Homo sapiens: one gene and its partners. The protein of the gene in region 1 binds, or shares a complex with, the protein of each later gene. Each region holds a gene or a part of one and is shown in the gene's direction. Other genes may lie near its edges. The genes, in order: TFDP2, LIN9, LIN52 and RBL2.

The links.
Region 2: TFDP2 (region 1) and LIN9 share a complex: the UniProt entries of both Homo sapiens proteins name them as parts of the DREAM complex.
Region 3: TFDP2 (region 1) and LIN52 share a complex: the UniProt entries of both Homo sapiens proteins name them as parts of the DREAM complex.
Region 4: TFDP2 (region 1) and RBL2 share a complex: the UniProt entries of both Homo sapiens proteins name them as parts of the DREAM complex.

What each region holds. Positions count from the first base shown.
Region 1 is NC_000003.12:142,139,523-142,146,555, reverse strand, and holds part of TFDP2 (transcription factor Dp-2), read left to right. Parts: intron 1-7,033. UniProt on the Homo sapiens protein: Can stimulate E2F-dependent transcription.
Region 2 is NC_000001.11:226,285,149-226,292,181, reverse strand, and holds part of LIN9 (protein lin-9 homolog), read left to right. Parts: intron 1-4,384; coding exon 4,385-4,518; intron 4,519-5,723; coding exon 5,724-5,849; intron 5,850-7,033. UniProt on the Homo sapiens protein: Acts as a tumor suppressor. Inhibits DNA synthesis. Its ability to inhibit oncogenic transformation is mediated through its association with RB1. Plays a role in the expression of genes required for the G1/S transition.
Region 3 is NC_000014.9:74,094,954-74,101,986, forward strand, and holds part of LIN52 (protein lin-52 homolog), read left to right. Parts: intron 1-994; coding exon 995-1,032; intron 1,033-1,709; exon of another isoform or gene 1,710-1,766; intron 1,767-2,840; coding exon 2,841-2,907; intron 2,908-5,191; exon of another isoform or gene 5,192-5,254; intron 5,255-6,201; coding exon 6,202-6,285; intron 6,286-7,033.
Region 4 is NC_000016.10:53,486,441-53,492,151, forward strand, and holds the end of RBL2 (retinoblastoma-like protein 2), read left to right. Parts: intron 1-3,689; coding exon 3,690-3,860; 3' UTR 3,861-5,208; downstream 5,209-5,711. UniProt on the Homo sapiens protein: Key regulator of entry into cell division. Directly involved in heterochromatin formation by maintaining overall chromatin structure and, in particular, that of constitutive heterochromatin by stabilizing histone methylation.

The sequences.
Region 1 (7,033 bases):
ACTTTGGGGCTAACCTTCCTGTGTTTAGATCCTAGCTCTGCAGTTTATCAGCTGGGTAACCCTGAGTAAGTTATGTAAACACTCTGGGCCTAAGTCTCCTCATCTCTAATATGGGGTTAATAATAGTGTCTATCTTACACAATTCTGAAGATAATTAATATATATATATAAGTCATTTAGAATGGGTTGTGGCATCCCAGTACTATGTATGTATGATACCTATTTTACTATTGGTTTCCTTGTCAACTAAAATTGTTGAATTATTTTGTTCATGCTCTCTCTGTTCTTAAAGTCATACTCTCTCAATTCTTTAATAGAATATTTTTTGGTAGGACTTTACATGTATCTATATTTTTATTTTGTAAGATTGCTTCTAGTCTGTTGACATTAAAAAAATCCTGATTTGGTCATCCAATAAATATCAAATCTATGCATTTGATAAACATACAAGTTTGATAATTTTGGCATTGCTTTCATGCAAATTTTTCACTAAAATGCTGTCTAGGCAGGGCTGAGGTCAGAGTTCTTTACCTGCTAAAGACCTCTCTTAAAGGTGATAAAAAATTTTATTATTAATTCTTTGGTTCAGGTTGGTCACCCAATTAGAAATTCAGCTAATTTTAATCATCATCTACCTCATATGTTTCCAAGTTCTCATAAGGAATATGTGAGGAACTTTGACAGTTGCCTTACTAAAACCCAGATTTTATATGCTTCGTTTTCTTTACCCTATCATTACTTGTCCTTAGTGAAACTATACTATATTCCAGTAGCATATGTTAATTACTACTTTTTTGTCTTTTTTTTCGGAAAAGGATTATTTATTTATTTATTTATTTATTTAGAGACAGAGTCTCTCTCTGTCACCCAGGCTGGAGTGCAGTGGCCTCCTGGATTCAAGCAATTCTCCTTCTCCAGCCTCCCGAGTTGCTGGGTCTGCAGGCGCTTGCCACCATACCCGGCTGATTTTTGTATGAGAAAAGGATTTTTTAATTCAAGTAAAAATGTGGAATGCTTTAAGAATTTGTGTGTCATCATTGCACAGGGGCCATGCTAATCTCTGATTTGTTCCCGTTTAGTATATGTGCTACTAAGGGAGCACTGATTACTACTTTTTCTAAGTGTTCACAAACTTCTCTTAGTAATGATGCTAGAATCATGTCTAAAATTACATCTAACTTCAGTGATCAATAGTTGGCAGGATCCCATTTCTCTTTTTTTGAACACGAGTACTACATTTTTCTGTCTTTAGTCTTCTGGCAACCTCTCCTGCTCACCATAGTTCCTAAATGATTGCCAACAGCTGTGTGGAATTTTATTTGGAGCAATATACCTTGTTGAAGGTTTACTTAGAGTAGTTAGGAACTGTCTTTTATCTTCATGTTCATATTGAGCTTTCATTTCCTCCAGTTCATTGATAAATTTATTAAATGCCCATTTTGCACAAGATATCAATGCTTGTTTTACTTGAGCCATCGGAAGAGAATTTTTCTTAATAAAAATGCCTGAAGCAAAAAGGTAATGTACATCTATTTCTCTCCATTCCTCCTATTGTTAATATTACCGTAGTCTGCCACCATTCCTTCTTTAGTGTACTGCAGTAATAGCTTCCTGTTAACCTTCCTTCTTCCAGTCCTTTTCTGTCTCTGGTCCTTATGTATGGCAGCCAAAGTTATCTTTGTTTTAAAAATGCATGTATGTTTTAAAAGTCGTTTCTGGGAGGTGCAGTGACTCACGCCTATAATCCCAGTGCTTTGGGAGGCCGAGGTGGGCGGATTGCTGAGCCCAGGAGCTCAAGACCAGCCTGGGCAACATGGTGAAACCTGTCTCTACTAAAAATACAAAAAGTAGTCAGGCTTGGTGGCATGTGCCTATAGTCCCAGGTACTCAGGAGGCTGAGGTGGGAGGATCTCTTGAGCCCAGGAAGTCAAGGCTGCATTGAGCTGTGATCGTGCCACTGCACTCCAGCCTGGGCAACAGAGTGAGACCCTATCTCTAAATAAATAAATAAATAAATAGGAATAAATAAATAACTAAGTATTTTCTTTCCTAGTGGCATAAGCTGTAATCTAATTAGAATTTGATTTCTGAGCATAGTACTTTCCAACTCCCTTTTTCTGTTTCCTCTTTACTGTCCTTTTAAATTCAAACCCCTCCACCCCTGCTGCCCCGCTTTTTTTTTTTTTGAGACAGAGCCTTGCTCTATTGCCCAGGCTGGCAGTGGTGCAATCTCGGCTCACTGCAACCTCCACCTCCTGGGTTCAAGTGATTCTTGTGCCTCAACCTCCCAAGTAGCTGGGATTATAGGCATGTGCCACCACACCTGGCTAATTTTTGTATTTTTAATAGAGACAGGGTTTTGCCATTTTGGCCAGGATGGTCTTGAACTCCTAACCTCAAGCAATCCACCTCTCTTGGCCTCCCAAAGTGCTGGGATTACAGATGTGAGCCATCGTGCCTGGCCATAGATCTCATTCTTTTTTATGGCCAAATAGTACTTCATTGTATGTATGTACCACATTTTCTTTATTCATTCATCTGTTAACGAACACTTAGGTTGCTTCCAAATCTTAGCTATTGTAAACAGTGCTGCAACAAACATAGGAATGCAGATATCTCTTCAATATACTGATTTCCTTTCTTTTGGCTATATACCCAGCAGTGGGATTGCTGGATCATATGGTAGCTCAATTTTTAGTGTTTTGAGGAACGTCCAAATTGTTCTCTGTAGTGGTTGTACTAATTTACGTTCCCATCAACAGTTTGAGAAGGTTCCCTTCTCTGCACATCCCCACCAGTATTTGTTACTGTCTGTCTTTTGGATATAAGCCATTTTAACTGGGGTGAAATGATAGCTCATTGTAGTTTTGATATGCATTTCTTCGATGATCAGCAATGTTGAGCACCTTTTCGAATGACTATTTGCCATTTGTATGTCTTCTATTGAGAAATGTCTATTCAGATCTTTTGCTCATTTTTTAATGGGATTATTTGATTTTTTTCCTAGAGTTGCTTGAGCTCTTTATATATTCTGGTTATAAATCTCTTGTCAGATAGGTAGTTTGCAAATGTTTTCTCCCATTCTTTGGGTTGTCTCTTCACTTTGTTGATTGTATCCTTTGCTGTGCAGAAACTTTTTACTTGATGTGATCCCATTTGTTTATTTTTGCTTTGGTTGCCTGTGCTTGTGGGGTACTGCTCAAGAAATTCTTGCCCAGACCAATGTCCTGGAGATTTTCCCCAATATTTTCTTCTAGTAGTTTCACAGTTTAAGGTCTTAGATTTAAGTCTTTAATCCATTTTGATTTGATTTTTTTTTTTAGACAGGGTCTTGCTCTGTTGCCCAGGCTGGAGTGCAGTGGCTTGATACCAGCTCACTGCAACCTCAGCCTCCCAGGTTCAAGCAGTTCTTGTGCCTCAGCCACCCAAGTAGCTGGGACTACAGGCATGTGCCACCATGCCTGGCTAATTTTTGTATTTTTAGTAGAGATGGGGTTTCACCATGTTGGCCAGACTGGTCTTGAACTCCTGACCTCAAGTGATCTGCTCGCCTTGGCCTCCCAAAGTGCTGGGATTACAGGCGTGAGCCACCTTGCCCAGGCTGATTTGATTTTTGTGTATGGCAAGTGATATGGGTCTGGTTTTTTTCTTCTGCATTTGCATATCCAGTTTTCCCAGCACCATCTATTGAAGAGACTGTCTTTTCCCCAGTGTGTGTTCTTGGCATCTTTGTGGAAAATGAGTTAACTGTAGGTGTGTGGATTTGTTTCTGGATTCTCTGTTCTGTCCATTGGTCTGTGTGTCTGTTTTTATTCCAGTCCCATGCTGTTTTGGTTACTATAGCTCTGTAGTATAATTGAAGTCAGGTAATGTGATTCCTCCAGTTTTGTTCTTTTTGCTCAAGATAGCTTTGGCTATTCTGGGTCTTTTGTGGTTCCATATAAATCTTAGGATGGTTTTTTCTATTTCTGTGAAGCATGTCATTGCCATTTTGATAGGGATTGCCTTGAATCTGTAGATTGCTTTGATAGCAGTATTGACATTTTAACAATATTGATTCTTTCAATCCATGAACATGGAATATTTTTCCATTTTTTTGGTGTCCTCTTCAATTTCTTTGATCAGTGTTTTATAGTTTTCATTACAGAGATCTTTCACTTCTTTGGTTATTACCTAGTTATTCAATTTTATGTGTGGCTGTTGTAAATGGAGTTACTTTTAAAATTTCTTTTTCACATTGTTCACTGTTGGCATATGGAAATGCTACTGATTTTTGTATGTTGATTTTGTATCATGTAACTTTACTGAATTTGTTTATCACTTCTATTAATAATACTTTTCTTGTGGAGTCTTTAGGTTTTTCCAAATATAAAATTGCATCATCTGCAAACAGGGATAATTTGACTTCTTCCTTTCCAATTTGGGTGCCCTTTATATCTTTCTGTTGTCTGATTGCTCTAGATAGGACTTCCAGTACTTTGTTGAATAACAGTAGTGACAGTGGGCATGCTTGTCATGTTTCAGATCTTTGAGGAAAGGCTTTCTAGTTTTTCCCCATTCAGTATGATACTAGCTGTGGGTCTGTCATATATGGCTTTTATTATGTTGGGGTGTGTTCCTTCTATCCCCAGTTTTTTGAGTATCTTAACTTCTTTGCAACATAAATATTTTATTTAAGACCTATATGTCCTTTTGCAACATATTTCATGCTCTTTTGACTTTTTTTTTTTCTTGAGACAGAGTCTTGCTCTGTCACCCAGGCTGGAGTGCAGTGGCATGATATCGGCTCACTGCAACCTCCGACTCCCGGGTTCAAGTGATTCTTGTGCCTCAGCCTCCCAAGTAGCTGGGATAACAGGTATGTGCCACCATGCCTGGCTAATATTTGTATTTTTAATAGAGACAGGGTTTTGCCATGTTAGCCAGGCTAGTCTTGAACTCCTGGCCTCAACTGATCTGCTGCCTCAGCCTCCCAAAGTGCTGGATTACAAACTTAACCCACCACACCTGGCCTATGTTCTTTTGACTTTAAAAGAAATTAAATAGATCTTCGTTCAAGATGGCCGAATAGGAACAGCTCCAGTCTGCAGCTCCCAGCGTGATTGATGCAGAAGATGGGTGATTTCTGCATTTCCAACTGAGGTACCTGGTTCATCTCATTGGGACTGGTTGGACCGTGGGTGCAGCCCACAGAGGGTGAGCCGAAGCAGGGAAGGGCGTCACTTCACCCAGGAAGCACAAGGGATCAGAAGATTTCCCTTTCCTAGTCAAGGGAAGCCGTGACAGACTGTACCTGGAAAAATGGGACGCTCTCGTCCAAATACTGGACTTTCCCCATGGTCTTAGCAACTGGCAGACCAGGAGATTCTCTCCCGTGCCTGGCTTGGCGGGCCCCACATCCGTGGAGCCTTGCTCACTGCTAGCGAAGTAGTCTGAGATGGACCTGTGAGGCTGCAGCCGGGTTGGGGGAGGGGTGTCCGCCATTGCTGAGGCTTGAGTAGGTAAACAAAGCGGCCAGGAAGCTCAAACTGGGCGGAGCCTACCTCAGCTCAGCAAGGCCTACTGCCTCTATAGACTCCACCTCTGTGGGCAGGGCATAGCAGAACAAAAGGCAGCAGAAACTTCTGCAGACTTAAACATCTCTGACAGCAGTGGTTCTCCCAGCATGGTGTTTGAGCTCTGAGAATGGACAGTCAGCCTCCTCAAGGGGTCCCTGACACCCGTGTAGCCTAACTGGGAGACACCTCCCAGTAGGGGGCGACAGACACCTCATACAGGTGGGTGCCCCCCTGGGACGAAGCTTCCAGAGGAAGGATCAGGCAGCAATAATTGCTGTTCTGAAATATTTGCTGTTCTGCAGCCTCTGCTGCTGATACCCAGGCAAACGGGGTCTGGAGTGGACCTCCAGCAAACTCCAACAGACCTGCAGCTGAAGGACCTGACTGTTAGAAGGAAAACTAACAAACAGAAAGGAATAGCATCAACATCAACAAAAAGGACATCCACACCAAAACCCCATCTGTAGGTCACCAACATCAAAGACCAAAGGTAGATAAAACCACAAAGATGGGGAGAAACCAGAGCAGAAAAGCTGAGAATTCTAAAAACCAGAGTGCCTCTTCTCCTCCAAAGGATTGCAGCTCCTCGTCAGCAACGGCATAAAGCTGGACGGAGAATGACTTTGATGAGTTGACAGAAGCAGGCTTCAGAAGGTTGGTAATAACAAACTTCTCTGAGCTAAAGAAGCATGTTCTAACCCATCGCAAGGAAGCTAAAAACCTTGAAAAAAGGTTATGGCTAACTAGAATAAACAGTGTAGAGGAGACCTTAAATGACCTGATGGAGCTGAAAACCATGGCATGAGAACTTCGTGAGGCATGCACAAGCTTCAAAGGCCGATTTGATCAAGTGGAAGAAAGGATATCAGTGATTAAAGATCAAATTAATGAAATAAAGCGAGAAGACAAGTTTAGCGAAAAAAGAGTAAAAAGAAATGAACAAAGCCTCCAGGAAATATGGGACTATGTGAAAAGACCAAATCTGTGTTTGATTGGTGTACCTGAAAGTGACGGGGACAATGGAACCAAGTTGGAAAACACTCTTCAGGGTATTATCCAGGAGAACTTCCCCAACCTAGCAAGGTAGGCCAACATTGAAATTCAGGAAATACAGAGAACACCACAAAGATACTCCTGAGAAGAGCAACCCCAAGATACATAACTGTCAGATTCACCAACGTTGAAATGAAAGAAAAAGTGTTAAGGACAGCCAGAGAGAAACATCAGGTTACCCAAAAAGGGAAGCCCATCAGACTAACAGCGGATCTCTCGGCAGAAACCCTACAAGCCAGAAGAGAGTGGGGGCCATTATTCAACATTCTTAAAGAAAATAATTTTCAACCCAGAATCTCATATCCAGCCAAACTAAGCTTCATAAGTGAAGGAGAAATAAAATCCTTTATAGACAGACAAATGCTGAGAGATTTTTTCACCACCAGGCCTGCCTTACAAGAACTCCTGAAGGAAGTGCTAAA
Region 2 (7,033 bases), on another chromosome or scaffold:
CTCAATCAGTCAATAGAAGATTCCCTCTAACAATTTGAATCTATTTTCCCATACCCAACAGGCGGGTCCTTAATATAGTTTTATATTCGATGAGCTGCTAATACCCTATATACCCTATTTAAAAATCTGGGTCAATAATGTAGTAGAAAGAAATAACACTTTTTGTGATAAGAATATTTTATAGTAATTTGGTTATTTATGCTAAACATCTCCTCACTTATAAATTTTTTCTTTTTTCTTCTTTTTACATTTAATTTTTTTTTTTCTCCTGAGAATGGTCACTGAGGGAAAACAAAGAAAAACAAAGTTATTTTTCTAAATGCAGTGTGGTATCCTGAATTGGTTTCTGGAACAGAAAAAGGATGTTGGTGAAAAAACTGGTAAAATCCAAATAAAGCCTGTAGTTTAGTTAATAGTATTGCACTAGTTTTGACAAATATACCAAAGTTACTATAAGATATTGATGTTAGGGAAAGCCAGGTGAAGGGCATGTGGGAATATGTACTATCTTTGCAACTTGCCTGTAAATCTACAACTTTTCCAAAATACAAAGTTTATAATAAAAATTTTAAAATTTTGACCCTAACTTACCATTCCAATATGTACTTCCCTCATACAGTGGCAGCCACTATAATTAGTTTGATTATCCTTATGAAACCTTTTAAATATACTTTTAATGTATTCATAGAAAATATTTAATATTGTTAAATGTATATATATTTTTTCTTTTTCTAAATGTATGTATTCTAAAAATTACATTTGTAGTATCATTTTCATGGTATTGTGCCATGTGTCATTCTGTAATTTTTTCACTGTCTTTTTTTGAGATCTGGCCATGTTGATTGATTGAGATAATCGGATTCAGTGTTTCATTTCTTTTTACTATTGAATAGTATTCAATTTTATATCATTATTTATAAATTCTCCCATTTGGGAGCATTTAAATTGTTCGTAAATTTTTACTTTGACAAATAATGCTGCAGTGAACATCCTGAGCATGTTTGTATAAATTTGCAAGTTTTTTTCTAGGACAGATGCCTAAGATGTGGAATTGCTGGATCGTAAATTATGTACATTTAAAGTTTTTAAAGCAGTACCAAATACTCTCCGAATAAATTGAACTGGGACCATGCACAGTGGCTCACACCTGTAATAGCAGCACTTTGGGAGGCCGAGGTGGGCAGATCACCTGAGGTCAGGAGTTCAAGACCAGCCTGGCCAACATGGCAAAACCCCATCTCTACTAAAAATAGAAAAATTAGCCAGGTGTGGCGGCACGTGCCTGTAGTCCCAGCTACTCGGGAGGCTGAGGCATGAGAATAGGTTGAACCTGGGAGGCGAAGGCTGCAGTGAGCCGCGATCGTGTCAGTATGCTGCAGCCTAGGTGACAGAGCAAGACGCTGTGTTAAAAAATTTTTTTAAAAAAAGGAAAGAAATTGTACTGGTTTATATATATTAGAGTTCCTATTTTCCAAATGCCTCCAACTCAGTACAGAACCAACCATCTAGATTTTTGCTAATCTGATATATAGAAATAGCCTTGGCCGGGTGCGGTGGCTTACGCCTGTAATCCCAGCACTTTGGGAGGCCGAGGTGGGCGGATCACGAGGTCAGGAGATCAAGACCACCCTGGCTAACACGGTGAAACCCCGTCTCTACAAAAAATACAAAAAATTAGCCGGGCGTGGTGGCGGGCGCCTGTAGTCCCAGCTACTCGGGAGGCTGAGACAGGAGAATGGCGTGAACCCGGGAGGTGGAGCTTGCAGTGAGCCGAGATCGTGCCACTGCACTCCAGCCTGGGCAACAGAGCGAGACTCCATCTCAAAAAAAAGAAAAAAAAAAAAAAAAGAAATAGCCTCTCACTTGTTTTAGTTGGCATTTTATATAAGAGCAAAGTTGAGACACTTTTCATATGTTTAAAAATTATTTCTTTCCTTTTCTGTAAACTGTTTATGCCTTTTTCCCATTTTTCTATTGGATTGTGGGTCATTGTGTTACTAGTTTATAAGAATTTTGTATATATTAAAAATATTGGCCCTTTGGATGTTTATAATGGCTGTAATTTTTTTTAGAGTTTATAGTTTGTCTTTTGATTTGTTTCTGTATTTTTTAACATATGGGATTTTAAAATATTTTAAGGATCAAATGTAACTTTGTTACCTTTTAATGACTTCTTGAGTTTGTCATGCTCAGAAAGACCTTTTCTACACTAAAATTTATCATTTTAGAATTCTCTCATATTTCATTTTTTTGGTTTGAACCTTCAGTACATCTGGAATTTATTTTGCAGTAAGGGATGAAGTAAAATTGCAACCTAGCTTTCCCACCCCCCCCCACCCCCCCCCCCGGAGGACTACTTAGTTGTCCTAGTAACATTTATTGGGTAATCCATCTTTTTAAACATTGATTTAAAATGCTGCCTTCATCAAAGCTAAATTCGTATAAGTATTTGGGATTACTTTCAGGCTTTCTATCTCTACATCTAGCATATCTCTATATGTGCTAGTATCAAATTATTTTGGCTGGGCATGGCAGCTCATACCTGTAATCCTAGCTCTTTGGGAGGCTGAGGCAGGAAGATCGCTTGAGCCCAGGAGTTTGGGACCAACCTGGTAACATAGCGAGAGCCCGTCTCCACAAAAAATGCATGAATTAGCCCAGTGTGGTGGCACATGCCTGCAGTCCCAGCTACTTGGGAGGTTCAGGTGGGAGGATGGCTTGAGCCCAGGAGGTCAAGGCTGTAGTGAGCAATGTTTGCACCACTGCACTTCAGCCTAAGTGACAGAGAGAGAGACCCTGTCTCAAAAGAACAAACAAAACCAAAACACACACACACACACACACACAAAATTGGTTTAACATGACTTTATACTGTGTTTTAATGCCTGGTAAGATATTATCACATATTCTTTTTTTGAGATTTTTTTCCTTTTCTTTCTTTTTTTTTGACATGGAGTCTCACTCTGTCGCCCAGGCTGGAGTGCAGTGGTGTGATCTCTGCTCACTGCAACCTCCGCCTCCCAGGTTCAAGCTAGTCTTCTGCCTCAGCCTCCTGAGTAGCTGGCACTACAGGCACAGCCACCACGCCCGGCTAATTTTTGTATTTTTAGTAGAGATGGGGTTTCACTATATTGGCCTGGCTGTCTGGAGCTCCTGACCTTGTGATCCGCCCATCTCGGTCTCCCAAAGTGCTGGGATTACAGGCGTGAGCCACTGCGCCCAGCATAAGATTTTTTCCTAAATATTTTTGTGCATTTATTTTTCCATGTAGACTTTAGAATCAACTTGACTAGGAAAAAAAAATCCTGTTGGCATTTTGACTGGGATTGGACTAATATTATAATTTATGGGAAATGATATATATAGGTAACATTGAGACTACCTAAGAACTGATTGTAGTTCCACTTAGTTCATAGTATTTCACAGTAGACTTAATTTTTTTCCATATCAGTCTTGCATGTTTCGTAAGTATATTCCTACATATTTAATTTTTTTGTTTATGTCCATTTTTGTGCTGTTATAAACAGGATATAAACTCTTATGGCCTGTCCAGTTATTATTTACATATAGTGATTTTTTTGAATCATGGTTTTTGTATATCAACTTTGTATTTACCCATTTCATTAAATTTTCTTACTGTTTTTAATTGTTACAGTTGATTTTCTTGAGTTTTCACCTACAAGGAAATGGTAGTTTTATCTTCTTTCTAAATTTTATTCTTCTTACCTGATTGGCCAATTCCTTCAAAACAGTGTTATGAAATAGTGGTGGTAGTTGAAATCTTTGTCATACTAGGTTAGTGGTGGTAGTTGAAATATTTGTCGTTCTCATCGTCTTTTAATATTACGATACTGGTTTTTGGGTTGGAGTGGGGAGAAATGTTTTATTAGGTTAAAAAAGTATCCATCTAAGCTGGGCGCTGTGGCTCACACCAGTAATCCCAGCACTTTGGGAGGCTGAGGCAGGCAGATTACCTGAGGTCAGGAGTTTGAGACCAGCCTGGCCAACATGGTGAAACCCCATCTCTACTAAAAATACAAAAATTAGCTGGGTGTGGTGGCGTGCGCCTGTAGTCCCAGCTACTTGGGAGGTTGAGACAAGAGAGTAGCTTGAACCCGGGAGGCAGAGGTTGCAGTGAGCCGAGATTGTGCCACTGCATTCCAGCCTGGGCAACAGAGCAAGACTGTCAAAAAAAAAAAAGGCAATAATCAAAAATAATCGGAGTGTTTAAAACAGCAACAAAATTCCATGTTGAATATCAGTGAATCAGTGAACCTTTTTAAGTACTTAAACATAATTTACCTTTTGCAAATTTATTCAGGGTTATAAATGTTCATTTTTACTTAATGGAGCCATAAATTAATCTCTTTTTTTTATTGTATAGAAATTTACAGCAACAATGTCAACACCAGATAAGAAAGCTTCACAGAAGATTGGTTTTCGATTACGTAATCTGCTCAAGCTTCCTAAAGCACATAAATGGTGTATATACGAGTGGTTCTATTCAAATATAGATAAGTATGTATCATGGCTTATATTATGAATATTACTTGAATCAGAAATTTAAGTTTTTCAAGTGTTTTAAGCTACAACATTTTCTATAGGTCTACTTTGATCTTATTTTTCTCTAAATTCATTTTTCTGTTCCACATTCCAGTTGGATCTATTCTATTTGTCATAGTTTTCTTCCCTGTTATCCTTTTTGGGGAAGAAAACTGTACATTTTTGTGAAGAATTGATTACGGTATAATTTCTGTGTTAGAATTCTTAAAGACTATGGAGTAGAGATACCTTAAAACACCATTATTTGCAGTGAATGAGATTCATTTTATAATTGAGATGTTAAGTGCTGGTATAATCATAGAGAAACCATTACTAATGGTAAAAATGGCTTAAGATTTTTAAGAGGGTAGTCTTTCTAGTTTGGATGTGGTACTTAAGCACGCTAGGTATACACATATGCTTAAGTATGACGTAGTATGAGATTTGGCTGAAATACAATTATTCAACAATGGAATTTACTGAGGAAAAGTTCTTATTTATAATCCTTCCTCATATGCCAGTCATTGCTGCTTGCTCTGCTGGATATTTATATTTTCTTCCCTTCTCTGTTTTCTATACCAATTGCCTACTCTGGAGCTTGTGAATCTCATGAATGTTCATATTTGAGCCCAAGGCATTTATGTATCATTGCCAACACTGGTTCCTGGTTTCCCAGACTCATGAATAGAATTGTTTTATTTTTGTCCATAGGCTTAAGAGAGTTTTCAGGGTGTCTCAGTGTAATCTGAGTTCTTCTGGGATCCCCCAAGCTAATCTAACCCTCTGGAGTCCTCCAGTGTCCCAAGACTGGTTTAATTCCAAAGAGGACTCCTTGGTGATGGTATTCCTTTGGGACAAAGATACTTTGTAGCTAACTTGGTTTATCTTCACCTGATACAAGGCCAGGGCCACGATAGCCTCCCAAAGGATATACCTGTATAAGAGATTGAACAAAAATCAGTGTCTCTTGGAATCACAACACAAATAATATTTCCTGAGCAACTTTTACACGACATTAGATGTTTCACAAATGCCAAGGATTTAGTTTTAGCACTTTGAATTTGTGCCAGTTTATATATATATATGGGGTAGAAGTGAAAGTTTAGCATTTTGTGATTTTATGTGTTTTAAGAAAGTAACACATTGTATGTAACCATTAAAATACTATATCTGTTTTACAGACCACTTTTTGAAGGTGATAATGACTTCTGTGTATGTCTAAAGGAATCTTTTCCTAATTTGAAAACAAGAAAGTTAACAAGAGTAGAATGGGGAAAAATTCGGCGGCTTATGGGAAAACCACGGAGGTAAAAATAATGTTTTTGTTTTTGTTTAAAATAAAATCAAGCCAGTAGCAGTGCATGTACTTATAATCCCAGTTACTTGGAAGGCTAAGATGGGGTATTTGCTTAAGGCCAGGGGTTCAGGGCTGTAGTATGCTGTGATTACACCTGTGAATAGTCACTGCACTCTAGCCTGGGCAACACAGTGAGACCATTCCTCTAAAAAAGAATTAAAAAATAAAATCAATAAATAATAGTTGTTAGTATCATTAGTACATTGATTTTTTTAATCTTTAAAATGACTAGTACCAAAACATAACTTTTCAGAATAATTGATTATATGTTAAATATATCCTGTTAACCAACTTTAATGTAGGTGCTGTTTATACGTATGCATCTTATAATTAAATGCACAATTTCATTTTTGTTAGGATCACAGGTTTTCAACGTAATTTTTTAGTTTTACATTATCTATGTCCCTCTGTGTTCCAAAAAATATTTAAGAATGTCCTAAAAAGTATTTAAGGATGCTGTAAAGTTCTGTGTACATTTTTGTTATCTTTTGTGAAATCCTTTATAATCTCAGGAGCCTTCCCAGAAGTGCCTATTTTATTTTATATAAAAGTAGAAAACAAATTAATCTATCTAATATGTTACTTCCTGAGAATTGCTCTTCATGTGAAATGATTTTTTCTTTTCCAGTGTTATCCTGGTAACACATTGGAAAACCTTATATTACTTTTGAGTGAAAATTGGAAATATGTTAGAAGAATAATTAGATCATTAGTTCTCACATTATGTCTATCTGCCTGGTAAAAAGTATGTGCAAGACTTTTTCATTTTAAATGGTGGGAAAGTTCAAGGAAGGTCTGTAAATATAAAGTGATTTGGACAAATAGAAATGGAATTTAGATTTAATGATTTCTTTAGATGGTGATGAAATACAGAGAGAACTTTTAATTAAACTGTCATCAAGATGACCTTGATGATGATGTTTTTAATATTTCTTATAATAACAAAATTAAAATTTGATATGTTATTTAGTGTGTTTCATACTCATAATTTATGGCCTTTGGTAATTACAGTAGCCATTTGGTGACTTTTTGCTATCATTTTGCGTGTTTGAGCAAATTGAGTTACACTGTTTCTAATTATTGTCCATCAGAGTGGGATATTGGTCACTATTTACTGTTTTGTCATAGTTCTGT
Region 3 (7,033 bases), on another chromosome or scaffold:
CTGAGCTCAGGCAAAGATGTTATTTTAATTATATATTTTTTTTAGAGACAGAGGCTCATCCTATCACCCAGGCTAAAGTGCAATGTCACGATGATAGCTTACTGCAGCCTCCAACTCCTGAGTTCAAGCCATCCTCCTGCCTCAGCCTCCTAAGTAGCTAGGACTATAGGTGTGCATTACCATGCCCAACTAACTGTTTTTTTTTTTTTTTTTTTTGAGACAGGGTCTTCCTCTGTTGCCCAGTTTGGAGTGCAGTGGTGTGATCATGGCTCATTTCAGCCTCAACTTCCCGGGCTCAAGCCTTCCAAGTAGCTAGGACTACAGGGGCACATCACTACGCCTGGCTAAATTTTGTATTTTTTGTAGAGACGGGGTTTCACTATATTGCCCAGGCTGGTCTCCAACTCCTGAGCTCGAGTGATTCACCCGCTTCAGCCTCCCAAAGTGCTGGGACTACAGGCATGAGCCACTGCACCCGGCCCGTTTTTTAATTTTTTGTAGAGTCTGGGGTCTTGCCCTGTTGCCCAGGCTGATCTTCAAGGGATCCTCCTGCCTTGACTTCTCAAAATGCCCAGCCCTGATTTTTATTTTTCTGCATTTTAATGTGATTCTTTCTGTGAGAAATTTAAATAAATAAAATTGGATTGACAGAACAGCATCTCTAAAAAGGCAGTTTAAACTTTCTGGTAAGAGATATTGTATCTTACCACCCTCCCAACCAGCTAACTCCTGGTCCTTCCAAGTTCAGTTGAGGCATTATTTTCCTTGAGAAGCTTTTTATGCCCCCTGGGTCTGACTTAGCTTGCCATTTTTTGTCTTGCCATAGTCCTGGCATCTTTCTTTGAGGACTGAAACAGTGTTATAGTTATTGGTTTATTCTTTCTCTTCTTCTAAACTATAAGAAAACAGACAAAGCTGTTTTCTTATTATTTGGATCTTCTATGCCTGAGCAATCATACTTATTGAATAAATAAAGTTTTGTTTTTCTTTTTAGTACCAGGTGTTGCTGAATTTGCAGCTTCCTTCAAAAGTGTAAGTAATATCCCTTACCTACTGAGGTCAATCCAAAGTTTCGCTCCTGAGTAAAAGCTCAGATCTCTGTTCTTTATTTTATTTTATTTTATTTATGGCAGAGTCTCACTCTTCGCCCAGGCTGGAGTGCAGTGGTACGATCTCGGCTCACTGCAACTTCCACTTACCAAGTTCAAGCGATTCTCCTGCCTCAGCCTCCTGAGTAGCTGGGATTACAGGTGCCCACCACCACGCCCAGCTAATTTTTGTATTTTTAGTAGAGACGGGGTTCACCATCTTGGTCAGGCTGGTCTCAAACTCCTGACCTCAAGTGATCCACCTACCTCAGCCTCCCAAAGTGCTGGGATTACAGGTGTGAGCCACCGCGCCTGGCCTTTTAAAATTTTTTGTGGAGAAGAGGTCTCACTATATTTCCCAGGCTGGTCTTGAACTCCTGGGTTCAAGTGATCCTCCTGCTCCAGCCTCCCATAGCATTAGGATTACAGGTGTGAGCCAATGTATGTGTTTTTGTTTTTTTGTTTTTTTTAATGTGAAAAAAATACCTACTTTATAGAGTTGATTTGGAGGTAAATGACTTGATGCATGTAAAGTGTTTTGCTTGTCACATAATAGGTTCTGAGTACATTTTAATTAAAAAAAGAGAAAGACGCAAAGCTGAAATAATGTTTCTCAACCCTACCTTTTGTGCATGACAGAATCATCAACATGCAGCTATGGAGCTCTTGAAAAATGCACTGTAACAAATGAGCACCAAGAAAAAAATTAATTAAATATAAAAAAAGAAAAGCACATATGAGGAGTCCCTTGCTCTACTTTTTCCACTGGACCCTTCCCTACCCCTCATATTCTAAATCATTATGTCTGGAGTGTGGCCAAGGCATTTATAGTTTTAAAAGTTACACAGGTGATTCTCGTGTGCAACTAGCATTAAACTGCCAACCCAGAGCTATTCTAAGAATGGGCTTTCTTTCATAGTTTTAAGTTCACTTTCATAAATGAAAAATTGTAAAATTCTGAAGTTTCCTAAAACCTCTACAATAAAATTGTGAAATTCCAAGTGATGACCATTCCAGACTTCTCTCACTTAAAATGATGATTTTCTCATTCTTGATTCTTCTTTGAATCTCCCGTATGCCAGAGAATGTTACTTACTGATTAGTGTTTCAAACAGTTGAATTGGAGGCTTTCACCAGAACTGAATTTCAAGTAATTTCATTCATTGCTATACTAACTTGTTAGGCATAAATCAGTAATAGTGGTCATACCTATTCTTCCACAGTGATTTCTCTGAGACTGACTTTCAAGATGAGCCATGTTTTTTGCAGTGACTATTTGTAGGCCATATCTAAACCTGGAGAAATCCAGGTTTTTGAAATTATAATCTGCCAGTATTTCCAAACAACCTGAAGGCTATGTGACAAGCTGCATTTTTTCTTTTTCTTTTTTTTTTTTTTTTTTGAGACAGAGTAATACTCTTACCCAGGCTGGAGTACAGTGGCACAATCTTGGTTCACTGCAACCTCTGCCTCCCACATTCAAGAGGTTCAAGCAATTCTCGTGCCTCACCCTCCCAAGTAGCTGAGATTACAGGTGTGTGCCATCACGCCTGGCTAATTTTTTTTGTATTTTTAGTAGAGATGGGGTTTCCCCATGTTGGCCAGGCGGGTCTCGAACTCCTGACTCCTGACCTCAAGTAATCCGCCCACCTTGGCAGCCACCGCATCCGGCCCAGGCTACACTTCTTATAAGAATAATAGGGTCTCCTCACACTTTTTATGTGTCTGAATGGATATATTATTTTTTGACAGCCTATTACTAGTTCTCCACCCAAATGGATGGCTGAGATAGAACGTGATGACATCGACATGTTGAAAGGTAAGTGATGCTAGTTACCACTTTTAACTGGATATTTATGTTTTTCCATAGACCACCTCTCTATTTTTTTTTTCTGTTTCCTTACAAGTATTTTTGGCTTCAGACTTCTCATTTAAACCTCCTTATTTGTAGTTTTTCATGTCTGCAATGCCCTTCTCTACCTTTTCCATGTGTAGAAATCCTGCCAATTCAAGACTCAGTCATAGTGAATTCTGCTGCTGGTGCTAAATTCTTCTAATGTGAACCTGATTTTGTATAATACAGTTAACGAATAGCTCTAACATAAATTTTTTCATTTAATTCCCATAAAGGTCCTGTGAGTTGGGTATGATGATATTCAAAGTTCATAAGTTAACCAAGATAGAATGAGTTAAAATTTGGCTAGGCGTGGCTCATGTCTGTAATCTTAGCATTTTGGGAGGCCGAGGTGGGTGGATCACTGGAGGTCAGGAGTTTGAGACCAGACTGACCAATATAACGAAACCACGTCTCTACTAAAAATACAAAAATCAACCAGGCATGGTGGCAAGCTCCTGTAATCCCAGCTACTCTGGAGGCTGAGTCAGGAGAATCACTTGAACCTAGAAGACAGAGGTTGTGGCGAACAATAGTTCCACTGCACTCCAGCCTGGCTGACAGAGCAGGACTCTATCTCAAAAAAAAAAAAAAGTTAAAAAATTTTAACTCTGGTTTTTTTTTTTTTTCAGACGGAGTCTCGCTTTTGTTGCCCAGGCTGGAGTGCAGTGGTGCGATCTCGGCTCACTGCAACCTCCGCCTCCTGGGTTCAAGCGATTCTCCTGCCTCAGCCTCCCGAGTAGCTGGAATTACAGGCATCCCCCACCACGTCCAGCTAATTTTTGTAGTTTTAGTAGAGATGGGGTTTCACCATGTTGGCCAGGCTGGTCTCAAACTCCTGACCTCCAGTGATCCACCCACCTCGGCCTCCCAGAGTGCTGGGATTACAGGCGTGAGCCACCACGCCCCGCGTAAACTCTGCTTTTTTAAGTCTAGCCTCTTTCCATTATAACACAAGTGCCTTATTTAGAATTTACTGCCATATATTGTCAGTACTATTAAATGACAACCTCTTAGTGGGTTAAGACCTATTTTTTATTTTTTTATCCCATCAATTTCTTCTATAAAGAATACTATAAGTAGTGAATATTGTTGTTTGATAAATGATTTGAAACTCAATCACAAAGTGGAAATTTAAATTAAAAAACATTAATTTTCCATGATTTTGCCCTACTTTATTTATTTTATCATCCTTCTGGTGATAAGATTCATGATGATTGTGAAGTAATAGACTGAAATTAAGGTAAAAACCTGGGATTCTTGAGGTATTTAAACAGCTGAACATATCAAGAAAGTCTACTTATGCTAGGTGTAGATAATGACTGTGGCATGATAAATGAGATTAAAAAAAAACACCTTTATTTGATTTTAGAAGTAATTCATTGTTCTTTATGAAATGCTTAAATGCAGATTCCCTCCTCCTGCCATGGAAAAATTAAGTCTCAAGGGCATCTCAGGTTCATTCTTCTAATGTTTCAAACAGACATTTATATAATATCTCATCAGCATGTATTTCTTAAGGCAACTTTAAATTTTTAGTGAGGGATCATAGCATTATATTCTATGCAAACTGACCTGTGTCTTAAACCTAAAAGGAATTGGGTGCTATTTAAATAAAAATTCAGGAAAGAACATTTTTAAGTATTGTCTTTGTGTGTGTGTGTGTGTGTGTGTATGTGTGTGCAAGAGACTGGAGTTTTTTTTATTACTCAGTCTCCCCGAGAATTTGGGGATCAGAGTTTTTAAGGATAATTTGGTGGGTTGGGGGGACAGTGAGTTGCTAGTGCTGATTGATTGGGCTGGAGATGAAATCACAGGGAGTCAAAGCTGTCCTCTTGCACTGAGTCAGTTCCTGGGTGGGGGCCACAAGATCAGATGAACCAGTTTATTGATCTGGGTGGTACCAACTGATCCATCAAATGCAAGGCCTGCAAAATATCTCAAGCACAGAAACACCCAACAGTGAAACTGCCATTGCAGAATTGTAACTGTGATGGTGAAAGAGATCTGACCTAACCAACTCCATTTGCTCCTAACCTCCAACAGTATGCTGTCTTTTTACTTAGTAAACTTAAAGATTTTTATAGGAATTTGATTTGAAGGGAAAGTTTAGATTTTTATTTAGTCTTTGTTTTCTAAACTTAGGGAAATGGGGAATAGTAAGTGTTTTGTTGCCACTTTATTATAAGTCGAAATAATGTGGACTTACAATTAACAGTGGAGACAGTGTCCATTTTGTCAGATCAGATCTGTCTTCAAGGCTTTCTTAATGCTATCAAAAGACAAGGTTTTACATTTTAATGATGTATTCCAAACAAATGTTATAAATAATGTTTCCTGAGGATGAATCACTTAATTTGTTACTTTATTATTTTTTTCTTTTTTTATTTGAGAAAAGGTCTCACTCTGTCACCCAGACTGTAGTGCAGTGGTGCCATCATGGCTCACTACAGCCTTGACCTCCTGGTGATCCTCCCATCCCAGCCTCCTGAGTAGCTGGGACTACAGGCATACACCACCATACCCAGCTAATTTTATTTTATTTATATTTTTTTTTTGAGAAGGAATCTCACTTTGTTGCCTAGGCTGGAGTGCAGTGGTACAATCTCAGCTGTCTGCAACCTTTGCCTCCTAGGTTCAAGTGATTCTCCTGTTTCAGCCTTCTGAGTAGCTGGGACTACAGGCGCCTGCCACCACACCCAGCTAATCGTTCTATTTTTAGTAGAGACAGGGTTTCGCCAGGTTGGCCAGGCTGGTCTCAAACCCCTGACCTCGGGTGATCTGCCCGCCTTGGCCTCCCAAAGTGCTAGGATTACAGGCATGAGCCACCATGCCTGGCTGAATTTTTGCATTATTTTTATACAGGTGAGGTATCATTGCCCAGGCTGGTCTTGAACTCCTGGGCTCAAGTGATCCTCTTGCCATAGCCTCCCAAGTAGCTGGGACTGAAGGCATGTGCTACCATGCCCAGCTAATTCTGTTTTTATGCTAGTTCTTTTCTTATTAAGTGGGTAAGCTTATCTGAGGAATTTTGCAATAGTGGGAAAATTCCCTGATTTGTGTGTGTTTAAGATTGGGGGAGGAGTTACGGATCCATTTTCTACTTATTCAGTGGTAATTAAGCTTGAAAACTTGTATAACAAGAGTTCCCAACCCAAGGAAGTTGCTACTAGAGAAGAGTGGAAAGAAATGATGTTGAAATAAATGATTCTGTTTCAGAACTGGGGAGTCTCACCACGGCTAATTTGATGGAGAAGGTTCGAGGCCTACAGAACCTAGCCTATCAGCTGGGGCTGGATGAGTGTGAGTACCCCGATCGCATTTGTTCAGGGGTGTATTCCACCCTGAGCTGTGTATTCCACCCTGAGCTCAGGTATTCCACCCTGAGCTCCAGTTATAATTCAGAAAGTATATTAGGGAAAAGAGAAGCATTCTGAAGGTAAGAAGTCAATCTAATTCATTGACTTTTTATGGTGGAGTGTGGTGGAATAATTACTGGATTTACTAGGTAACAAATGATTTTTCTTTTTTTTTTTTTTTTGAGACGGAGTCTCGCTCTGTCGCCCAGGCTGGAGTGCAGTGGCGGGATCTCGGCTCACTGCAAGCTCCGCCTCCCGGGTTCACGCCATTCTCCTGCCTCAGCCTCCCAAGTAGCTGGGACTACAGGCGCCCGCCACTACGCCCGGCTGATTTTTTTTGTATTTTTAGTAGAGACGGGGTTTCACCGTTTTAGCCGGGATGGTCTCGATCTCCTGACCTCGTGATCCGCCCGCCTCGGCCTCCCAAAGTGCTGGGATTACAGGCGTGAGCCACCGCGCCCGGCCGATTTTTCTTTATACAGTAAAAGTATATTGAAATCCCTTCAGGTTATTATCTCATTTTTAAATAGACAGAGTCTTACTATGTTGCCCAGGCTGATCTTCAACTCCTGGGCTCAAGTGATCCTCCCACCTTAGCCTCTGAAGTAGCTGGGACTACAAGCATGTACCACCGTGCCTGGGTAATTAAAAAATTTTTTTTGTAGAGACAGAGTCTCACTATATTGCCCAGG
Region 4 (5,711 bases), on another chromosome or scaffold:
GTCAGAGAAAACTGTAGGCCCAGATGGCTTCATTGGTAAATGCTACCAAACATTTAAGGAAGAAATAATGCCAATTCTATAGAAACTCTCCCAAAAAGTGAAGGTGATAAATGATCTTAGTGTTTGAAGGAAAGCATCTGACAAAATCCAACATTCATTAATGTAAAAACTCTCAAGGAACTTCCTCAGCTTGGTAAACATTTACCAAAAGCATCTACAGATATCATACTTAATGGTGATAGACTGAATGCCTTGCCCCTGTGATCAAGAACAAGGCAACAATGTCCACTCTCACTACCCCTGTTCAACATTGTAACTGGGAGTCCTAGCATGTGCAATAAGACAAGAAAAGCCATACAGCCTGGATTGTCTACATAGGAAAATCACAAAGAATCCACAAAAAGCTACTGGAACTAATAAGGGAGGTTATGTGATCAACATACAAAAATCAAATGTATTTCTATATGCTAGCAGTGAACAATCAGAAGTAAAATAAAAAATTGAATACCATAACATTTTAAAATTACTTAGGGGTAGGTATGATAAAAACTATGCAACACATATATCCTGAAAACTATAGAAGCTTGGTGAGAGAAATTAAAGCCTGAGAAGATACAGAAATGTGTTCATGACATTGAATGAAAATAATACCTTAGTTTCCAATTCATGGAAAATAAAACAGCAGTTTTCTCCCAATTGATCTATAATTTCAAACCAATTTCAGTCAAAATCCAAACAGATTTATGTAAAAAACTGATTCTAAAATTTGTCATTTACAAGGCAAAGAACTCGAATAGCTAAAATAATTCAAAGGTGGAGGATTCACACTAATTATGAAGGTACACAAAATATCTGTATTATAACACCACAGTAATCAAGACAGTAGTGTTGGTGGAAGTATAGACACAGAGATCAATAGAACAGAACAGAGTCCTGAAATAGACAACACATGTATGGTAAACTGATTTTCAACAAAGGTGCAAAGGCAATTTGGTAGAGAAAGGATAGCCTTTTCAACAGATGGTGCTGGAACAATTGGATGTGCATATAACAAAATAATAGTAAACTTGTTCCCATACCCTGCACTATATACAAAAACTAAAAATGAACCACAGACATAAATGTAAAATCTCAAACTACAAAACCTCTAGAAGACAACAGAAAATCTTAGTGAACATGTTTTATGGGAAAATTTTATATACAACATCAAAAGCACAATCCGTAAAATACTGTTAAAATGGATTTTATCAAAATGAATAATTTCTGCTATTTGAGACACTGTTAAGAGAATTAAAAAACCAGCCATAGACTATTAGAAAATCTGTACACGTTCCATATCTGATGAAGCATTTGTATATCTACAGTATCTAAAGAATTCTCAAAATTCAGTAGGAAAACCACCAAATGTAAAAGTGGGCAAAAGATTTGAACACACTTCACCCATTACATGCCTGTTAGAATGGCTAAAATCCAAAAAGTGACAAATCGTAAGTTCTGACAACAATGTGGAACAATTTTACATATTGCTGGTGTGAACGCAAAATGGCATCGCCACTGTGGAAAGTTGTTTCTTAAACATACCATTATACAACCAGCAATCTCATTCCTAGGTATTTACACAAATGAAATGGAAACTTATGTTTAGACAAAATCACGTACATGACTGTTTATAGTGACTTTCTTCCTAATTGCCAAAAAGTGGGAAACAACCCAAACGTCCTTCAGCTGGTGAATGCATATAAATAAGCTGTGGTGCATCCAGACAATCGACTGCTACTTTGCAATAAAAAGGAACTGATATATTCAATGTAGATAAATCTCAAATGCATCAATGCTTAAGTGAAAGACACTGGATTCAGTAGGCTACTTATGATTCCATTTCTGTGACATTGTGGAAAAGGCAAAACTATTGGACAAGAACATCAGTGGTGGTTTGGGATAGGCTGACAAGGGAGTATGAGGGATTTTTTCAGAGGAACAGTTTTATCCGACTGTAGGTATTTCTAGCACAGAATTGGGAGTCTGTCCAGTAAAATGATAGCGATTATTAGACTCTTGGTTGGAGAAAGATTTGTCATCTTGACGTAATAGGTGATAGCTGAAACTTACGGGGAGAATATTACAAAGCAAGAAGGGGGAGAATATTACAAAGCAAGAAGTAGCTTATGTCTAGAACCAATCTATAACGTACTAACATTTAGACTACTATGAGAAAATAATTATCAAATACTATACAAGATCAGTTAAGATGAAGACTGATCATTAGTGATACTTGACAGAGCAGTGTCAGTGCACTGGTATGACTTGTTGAAAAATAAATTATGGTAGCATTGCTTATACACAATTAACAATGTATACAGTAAACAGTGTAAGAAATATTCAAGCAAATGGGAGACTGCAGAGATAGCAAATGCAGACCAGACTCTTAGGAAGGCAGAAAGGGGGCTAGAAAAAGAATTGAAGGAAAGCTTTCTTCAGATGCTTAAGATTTTGTGGCCAGGTGCAGTGGCTCATGCCTGTTCCCAGCACATTAGGAGGCCAAAGCAGGAGGATTGCTTGAGCCCAGGAATTCAAGACCAGCTTGGACAACATAGTGCAACCCCATTTCTATTGTTAATTAAAAAAAAAAAAAAAATGAAAAACACTTGTGAAGGTACATCTGTTGATAATAAAGAACACTGATTTTCATTAAAACCCCCAAAACATTTATTACTTTAAAGAATAAAAATAACAAGTGTCATGATAAAATATGTCTGGGATTTGTTTTAAAATAATCTGGGGAATGGAAGTGAATCAGAGTATAAATCAAACAAGGCTGGCCAAACATGCTGAAGTAGAGGAATAGGTATGTGAGGATGCATTATGCTTCTCTACTTTTGTATGTTTACAATTTCCTATAATAGATATCTGTGAATTTGCTTAGTATGCTTTCTGTAAGCAAACATGGATGAAGCAGCACATGAAAAAGAATTTTAACCAACAAACTAGCAGAAAATAATGTGACAGACGACTTTTAGAGGCTTTGGAGAAACTGAATGCTAAAGGTGCTGTACAGCCAGCCCCAGTCTTTCTGACATTCTGGCAGTGTCTTTCTCAATTGCAGCTCCTCATCTGAGCCACTGTCCAGAAAATAATTTGAGTAACTTTAATCCTCAATTCTCCCAAGGATAGTACCATTCTAGATCTTACTAATTTATTAGCTACAATGGATACCTTAGGGGGGGATTAAGGCCTACTTTTCTAGTGAAATCCCAGTTGAGAATGGCTGCTAAAAACTGAGTAACATTAGACTGAAAAAAAGGGAATATTGTATAAAGTTGTACTTTAAAAAAGAGAAAAAGATGTGTCTAAGTGACTATCAGATAGCAATGTAATGCTCCCTAATTGTAAAAAAAATCACAAATTTGTGAACTCACAAATTATAGACATGTATAATTGACCTACAGGTCAAAAGTGCCTGTGGAAGAGCTTGTTAAAAATAGAACTACTCAGCCCCTTCTCAAATAGCCATCGGCCTCAGCCAGCTGAAAAGTAAAGTTGGCAGGTTATGTAACTTAGTGTTTCTTTTCTCTGTAGATGTGTTCAAACTCTTCCAGGGTAAACTGCTTAACTCATTTGAGATTCTTTGACTTAATACTGAGCTATGTGCATTTGCATTTTAAAATTTTTGTATCTTTTTCCCACCATAGAGACTGAGAGAAATTAATAGTATGATACGCACAGGAGAAACTCCTACTAAAAAGAGAGGAATTCTTTTGGAAGATGGAAGTGAATCACCTGCAAAAAGAATTTGCCCAGAAAATCATTCTGCCTTATTACGCCGTCTCCAAGATGTAGCTAATGACCGTGGTTCCCACTGAGGTTAGTCTCTTGTATTAAACTCTTCACAAAATCTGTTTAGCAGCAGCCTTTAATGCATCTAGATTATGGAGCTTTTTTCCTTAATCCAGCTGATGAGTTACAGCCTGTTAGTAACATGAGGGGACATTTTGGTGAGAAATGGGACTTAACTCCTTCCAGTGTCCTTAGAACATTTTAATTCATCCCAACTGTCTTTTTTTCCCTACCATTCAGTGATTACTGTCAAGGCTGCTTAGAATCCAAACTTGGATTTTTGACTCTGGCAAAGCTTTTAGAAATACTGCAAGAAAATGATGTGTACCCAAACGTGAGCATAGGAGGCTTCTGTTGACGTACTCCAACAGAAGAACTGTGTTTCAAGTTCAATCCTACCTGTTTTGTGGTCAGCTGTAGTCCTCATAAAAAGCAAAACAAAAATTAGGTATTTTGTCCTAAAACACCTGGTAGGAGTGTGTGATTTTTTGCATTCCTGACAAAGGAGAGCACACCCAGGTTTGGAGGTCCTAGGTCATTAGCCCTCGTCTCCCGTTCCCTTTGTGCACATCTTCCCTCTCCCCATTCGGTGTGGTGCAGTGTGAAAAGTCCTTGATTGTTCGGGTGTGCAATGTCTGAGTGAACCTGTATAAGTGGAGGCACTTTAGGGCTGTAAAATGCATGATTTTGTAACCCAGATTTTGCTGTATATTTGTGATAGCACTTTCTACAATGTGAACTTTATTAAATACAAAACTTCCAGGCTAAACATCCAATATTTTCTTTAATGCTTTTATATTTTTTTAAAATGTTAAAACCCCTATAGCCACCTTTTGGGAATGTTTTAAATTCTCCAGTTTTTTGTTATATAGGGATCAACCAGCTAAGAAAAGATTTTAATCAAGTTGAATTGAGGGGATTAATATGAAAACTTATGACCTCTTCCTTTAGGAGGGAGTTATCTAAAAGAAATGTCTATTAAGGTGATATATTTAAAAATATTTTTGGGTGTTCCTGGCAGTTTAAAAAAATTGGTTGGAGAATTTAGGTTTTTATTAGTACCATAGTACCATTTATACAAATTAGAAAATGTTATTTAACAGCTGAATTATCTATACATATCTTTATTAATCACTATTGTTCCAGCAGTTTTCAAGTCAAATTAATAATCTTATTAGGGAGAAAATTCAATTGTAAATTGAATCAGTATAAACAAAGTTACTAGGTAACTTCATATTGCTGAGAGAAATATGGAACTTACATTGTTCAATTAGAATAGTGTTCTGCAAAAATATTTATAAAACTTCTCAAGATACTGCTACTGTAATTTTATATGAAGATAAGTGTATTTTTCAATAAAGCATTTATAAATTAGCCTTTGTTTGGTTATATTGAGAAAAGGGTAGTTTCCTGCATAAATGGCAAAGAACAATCATTTATTGGTTTATTTTGTCTCTACTAAACACATTAGTCATTTATCATTTAAATACCGGACTTCATTAGAAACCGTTGTAACACTTTTTCTCCCTCCTGCCATAAAAATACAGTAAGTAATTTGCTTAAAAAAAACAACACAACACTAGGAACAAGTGTTCTGGTTTCTTCTCACTGAACTAAAGACATTTCTCAGTGATTTCAGTTTGTAAATCAGTAAGACAGTGCAGGCTACAAATCAGTGCAGGCTGAAGACTGAGATTCAAATGATCTTCCACTTAAAAGTGCTGAGCTATGGAACCTGCTCTCTCTATACCTCTCCATTTCCTAACATATATACAACTGAAACCACTGATTTATAAACTATTAAGTAGTGCTGAATTCTGTCTGCTCTATTAGTTTAAATGAATGCAACTTACCTTTAGCATTATATTCAGAAAAAT